Regions from separate parts of the Homo sapiens genome. Here region 2 is linked to region 1. The links come from fine-mapping of genetic effects on gene expression. A gene starts in region 1. The other region holds a variant in brackets. All regions are shown on one strand. Distances are between the middles of the regions.

Region 1 (2,898 bases):
CACCATCAGGGGCCACATTTCCATGAGATGTGCAGGGGGCTCACTTCCAAACAGTATCAGATATAGTACTAGTTCCTTTTTTTTTTTTTTTTTTTTGAGACAGAGTCTCATTCTGTTGCCCAGGCTGGAGTGAAGTGGCGCGATCTCGGCGCAATGCAACCTCCGCCTCCCGGTTCAAGTGATTCTCCTGCCTCAGCCTCCCAAGTAGCTGGGATTACAGGTGCCCGCCACCGTGTCCGGGTAGCTTTTTTATATTTTTAGTAGAGATGGGGTTTCTCCCTGTTGGTCAGGCTGGTCTCAAACTCCCCACCTCTGGTGATCCACCCACTTCAGTGTCCCAAAGTGCTGGGATTACAGGCGTGAGCCACTGCGCCCGGCGCTACTTATAACTTTTTAAGAAACTACCAAGCCAATTTCTAGAATGGCAGCACCACTTTGCCTTACCACTGGCGATGTCCCAAGCTGCTCCGCGACCTCAGTGATGCTTGGCACTTGTTAGCAGTTTTTACCTGAGCCACCTGGCAAGTGTGCAGTGGCACCCACCGCGATGCTGGCCGGCCCTTCCCTGACAGCCATCCCTTCCCGAGCCTATTGCCATCCCTGTGCCCTCTTCGGTCAAACGTCTGTTGCGGCTCTTGCCAATTTTCTAACTGGAATGTTTGTTTTCTTGCGGTAGAGTTTAGAGATTTTTACATATTATCAGCCTGGGGGCTCCTCCACCCACACAGCCCTGAGCGTCCACCCTGGCAGCTGTTGCCCGTCTGCAGGCCCCCCCGCCCTCTGCTCCGCGTGCCCCTCCAGCTCAGGGGTCCCCTCGCCTCGGCTCTCTGCACCCCTGCTCAAAACGGTCAAAGAACCCTCCCCGGCCGTTTATTTTTCCCAGAAAGTGACAATTTTCTCTTTTCAGGTCGTAAGCACAGAACTGAGGGAGAAACTGTGGCTGAACAAGAGGAAAATGAGGAAGGAGTCCATGAAGGGGCTTTGGGGAACCTGTAACATCCTCCTCAGGCTCCCGGGGACGCCCCTGGAAAGCAGGCAGAATCGAGGGCGCTGGGGCCCCCGCGAGGGGAGCGGGAGGTCGCGCGTCTCGCAGCGGTTCCCGGCCGCCGGTGACCATCGCTGCGGACACATCCCGAGGAGGGAACCCAAGAGGGCGGCGGGGGGGACTCGCGAGCTGAACGTGGAAGCAACTCCAGCCGAGGACCCCCGGAGGCCTGGAGTGCACGGAGGGGCCGCGGGCAGCGTGGGGACGGCGCCGTCATCTCCCGAAGCCCGGCCCCGCGCTGGCTCCCCGGGCGGTGCAGGGCCGGCGTCGGGAAGGAGGCTCCGAGGCGCCGGCTTCTGCGCCCCACGCAGCGCCGCTCCCCGCGCCCGGGCGCTTTGCAGGCGCGGGCGGGATCCGGGCCAGCGTGTACGCGAAAGCCACGCGCGGGCGCAGCCCACGAGGGGAGGGGCGGGGAAAGGCCTCCTCTTCGCTCCCGGCCCCGCCCCCACACGGCCACCGAGGCGTGCGGTCCTCCCGGGGCCCAGAGCGTCCCGGAAGTGCGCGCCGGCCGGGCGGAGTGGGGCGGGGCCGGACACTTCCGTCCGGCGCGCGGCGTCCTCCTCCCGCTCGGAAGGTGAGTGGGCGCGGGCGGCGGCGGCGGCTCCGGGTGCCTGGGACCAGCCCAGTCCGAGCTCGTGCGCCGTACTCCGCGGTGCAGCCCTGCCCAGCCGGGCCGTGCGGCCCTTGCAGCCGCCGCTCGCCGTGACCTTGGCCTTGGGCCAAGCCCGGGGAGCGGGGTGGGCTCCTGGGGGTCGCGGAGCAGCAGCGGACCGCCCCGCCCAGCGGCCCTGGCGATAGCGGGTGTCCGTTCGCAGGGCGCCTTTCCCAGGCACCCAGTGACGGCAGCTGTCGTCATCGCCACTCTGCAGATGGGAAACTGAGGCCCGGAGGTCCCGCCGCTCCGGAGCGAGGAGCCGCCGGACCCCAGCGCCGCACCGCCGGGCGGACGCGCTCTGTGCCGAGCTCCCGGCGATTGGGTCCGCTCCCACGGGGCTGGGAACAGAGGGGCAGAGGATGCTTCCCCCGAGCCGCTGGCAGGAGTGCCCTTCCCCCTTCAGTCTGGAGCTCAGAGTTTGTGCGTCCCTGGGGGTGAAGGGGCGTCCACGCTGTGATGGTCGCCTCTGCTCAGTCCTGGGGGCCAAGCCAGGGTCGGGGTGATCGAGCAGGCCCTTTTACCAGGTGTCCCCAGTAAGTTAACTAAGTAACTTGAGATGTGACTTCAGGGTGGAGGACCTGCACCCAGTGGCCACCTACCTGGTGACCTGACCCTTCCCATCATTAGGGGATGGAGGCTGGCCCAGAAGCCGGGCACTGGGGTGGCGGCCGTGTGGGAGCTGCCTCTCCCACTTCCTCGAAGCAGGCACTGTCTGCTGTTCTTAGATCTGAGTATCCGTTAACTTTTGTCCTCTTTTCCCGTTCCTTTCTTCACTCCCTGCCCCAGATTAGGAGTTCCTACTCTATCACAGTATGAAAGAAAAGTCACTTTTCACATTGGACTCAAGCCGTTTTTGCAAAGTAAACTAAGAAGTGTCTTGGAGCCCTGAGTGAGTCTCCCAGTGCTGCTGCAGGGCTGGACTAGGGGATTCCAGCCTGCAGTCTCTGAGGGCTCTGTAGGGTCTGAGGAAGAGAGTTGCCCTCTGGAAACGTCTCTTCTCTGCTGTTCGGGAAAAACCTTATTAAGATTTCCTCCAAAACACTCATGCGCAGCAGGCATGGTTCGGTTTTCAGCCCTCCCACAGGGCCAGCAGCTGAGGTTTTTCTGGAAGACTCCCTATGCCTTTCTCTGGGGGAGGGGTGATGCCACGGGCTGGAAGGAGATGCCAGAGCCTCTGCTGGGACAGGAGCTTCGCTTC
Region 2 (2,898 bases), 27 kb before region 1:
TGTTCACGCGGTCTCCTCGCCTGTGCTCCAAAACAGAGATTCTGGACCCCGGCCACACACAAGAATCATCTGGGGGTGATTTTTCAAAACGCTGATGCTAGATGCCAGCCCCTCTGCCCCTACCCCAGCTACAGTGGGATCTCTTAGAGGTGGGGGACTGGTCAGCATTTCTCCAAGCTCTTAGGAGTTTCAAATGAACAGCCCGAGCTGTGCCCCACTGCACCAGGGAGCTTGTGCCATCTGCTGCCACTCAGGCCCTGCCTGATCATCAGAGTCACTGGGAAGCTTCTAAAATTACAGGTTATGAGGCTTAACCCCAATGGCATTCTGTTTGACCAGCTCTTGGATGATGTCTGGAAATCCCTTTTTTTTTTTTTTTTTTTCTTAAAAAGATTCCAAACTGATTCTGATTATGAGCAGGTTTAGGAACCAATGCCATAAAGGGCGTGAAAACCAAGGTAGCAGCTGTCCCGCCAGGCAGGGAAGACCTGGGCACTCCCTAGGCCCTGCCATGCCCCACACCATCCTGGGCATCCTCCATCTTCACACCATTTGGTCTTCATTGAAGATCCCATGAGATCCTGTTCCTACCCCGTCATGCAGGAGGGACCGCTGAGGGCATCTGAACATTGTGCAGGAGGGAACGCTGAGGGCATCTGAACATTGTGCAGGAGGGAACACTGAGGGCATCTGAACATCGTGCGGGTGGGAACGCTGAGGGCATCTGAAGTTGAGGAGCTTGCCCACATCAGCAGTGGGGTGCAGGGGTTGGAATCCAGACCCAGACCCGCCTGCCTTGGCTCCATCCCACCTGCTGTCCGAGACTCTGGGCGCCTGCCTGTGGATCCAGGCTCCAGCACACCGCTCAGCAGGCCCCACAGTCCTGGGAGGTCCAAGCCCTGGAACAAAGCAAAGCGCAGGCCTGCGTCTACACACCTGTCTCTGTGGGCTCTGTTCCTCTGATGCAACCCTGACGGATCCATTAGTATGACTGGAATGTCCTTGGGATCAAAACTCACTTTTTTTTCTTCTTTAGACAGAGTCTTGCTCTATCGCCCAGGCTGGAGTACAGTGGCACATTCTCAGCTCACTGCAACCTCGGCCTCCTGGGTTCAAGCGATTCTCCTGCCTCAGCCTCCCAAGTAGCTGGGATTAGAGGTGCCCGCCACCATGTCCGGCTAATTTTTTTTGTATTTTTAGTAGAGACGGGGTTTCGCCGTGTTGGTCAGGCTGGTCTCAAACTCCTGACCTCATCATCCACCTGCCTTGGCCTCCCAAAGTGCTGGGATTACAGGCGTGAGCCACCGCGCCCGACCGGAATCAAAACTTTCTAACTTCTAAAAGTTAGATTCTGGCTTCTAAAAGTGTGGCGCTGTTTTAGGATGGTTTTAGGATGGCTCAGTCCATCCAGTGGGAAGATTCTTTAAGCCCCTTGAACGTTTGGGCTGGAGAGAGAGTGAAATGAGGGCAGAGGTGCTGATTGGCCCCACACCAGTCACTGACAATGGCAGCTCCCGAGACGGCCATGGGTGCAGCCAGTGGGCACATTGCCCCCATTTTAAAATAAC[T/C]TATAAATTACAAGCCAAGTTTAGCAAGTGGGTACTGCACTAAGGGCTTTGTGAGGACTTTTCACGTAGCCTTCACAATGACCCCACAGGGCAGGTGCTATCATCTTGCCCCATTTGACAGGAAATCTACTGACCATCCCAAGGCACACAGCCAGCAGTGGTGCTGATGTCCAGGCCCAGTGCTTTGACACTGTCGAGTTTCTTAAACCCTCTGAGCCTTCATTGTTTTATCTGCAAAGTGGAGACACCACCAGCAGTGAGTCAAGCACGAAACTAGGTGATTGATGCCTGTGCCCAGGATGCCGGGAGGATCTCAGCCACAGCTGTTGCCTGTGCCAGCCGCTGCGGAGAAGGATGCCACAGGCACAGGGCACCAGGGCGATGGGCTCTCCAGGGGCAGTGTCAGTGGCTCAGTCACCCACTGAGGCTGGTATCCCAGGCTCAATGCCCACAGGGGTTCCAGTGCAAGTCCTGGGCCCCAGGAGGACCCGCACCCCAGGGCTCATCAGTCAGCCAGTCAATCAGTCCACAGGCACTAGCTGAGCGCCCGCTGTCTGTGAAGCACCCTGGTGGAGCTGACGCTCTTATCCTTGGGCAGTAAAGAAGCGAACACTGCGGTTCAGGAGTTCAGCACAGCAGTCCTGGGGTCACTGCTAAGGTTCTCGTAGCCGCATTAAAAAGGGAAAAAGAAGCAAACGCAGGCCAGGCGCGGTGGCTCACGCCTGTAATCCCAGCACTTTGGGAGGCCGAGGTGGGTGGATCACCTGAGATTGGGAGTTCAAGACCAGCCTGACCAACATGGAGAAACCCCGTCTCTACTAAAAACACAAAATTATCTGGATGTGGTGGTGCGTGCCCGTAATCACAGCTACTTGGGAGGCTGAAGCAGGAGAATCTTTTGAACCCGGGAGGCGGAGGTTGCGGTGAGCCGAGATTGCACCACTGGACTCCAGCCTGGCGGACAAGAGCGAAAATCTGTCTCAAAAAAAAAAAAAGAAAAGAAAAGAAAACACAAAATCCCAGTGAGCTCTCTCTCCAGTGTCCTGCACAGACCTTCACAAAGTAAGGGCCACCCAGGAAAACTGCACAGAAGAGAGAAAAGGAACTGGCTGTGGGCCTGAGGTTGCTCTCAAAACATTTTCCAGAAAAAGAAAGTCCATCTGAGTGCCAAAATACAGAAAAGTGTCTACATTTTGGAAAGAAATTTAAAATGACTATGGAACAGGTGCAGCGGCTCACGACTGTAATCCCAACACTCTGGGAAGCTGAGGTGGGAGGACTGCTGGAGCCCAGGAGTTTTAGACCAGCTGAGGCAACAGAGTGAGACTTG

The links. PIP is the estimated chance that this variant, and not a neighbour inherited with it, causes the effect. A credible set is the group of variants that fine-mapping cannot tell apart.
Region 2: its variant is the best candidate, but not a certain one, in a credible set for the expression of GLI4 in whole blood (TOPMed, PIP 0.57).

What each region holds. Positions count from the first base shown.
Region 1 is chr8:143,265,866-143,268,763 of GRCh38, forward strand. GLI4 (GLI family zinc finger 4) reads left to right here and starts at 1,580. Exons shown (of 4, transcript NM_138465.4): 1 at 1,580-1,619. RefSeq lists silencers at 1,046-1,755, 1,916-2,035 and an enhancer at 2,596-2,898.
Region 2 is chr8:143,238,568-143,241,465 of GRCh38, forward strand. No RefSeq gene overlaps it. Among named protein-coding and RNA genes, the nearest start is that of ZFP41, 6.9 kb to the right of the region's middle. The variant T/C (reference allele first, on the strand shown) is at 1,569.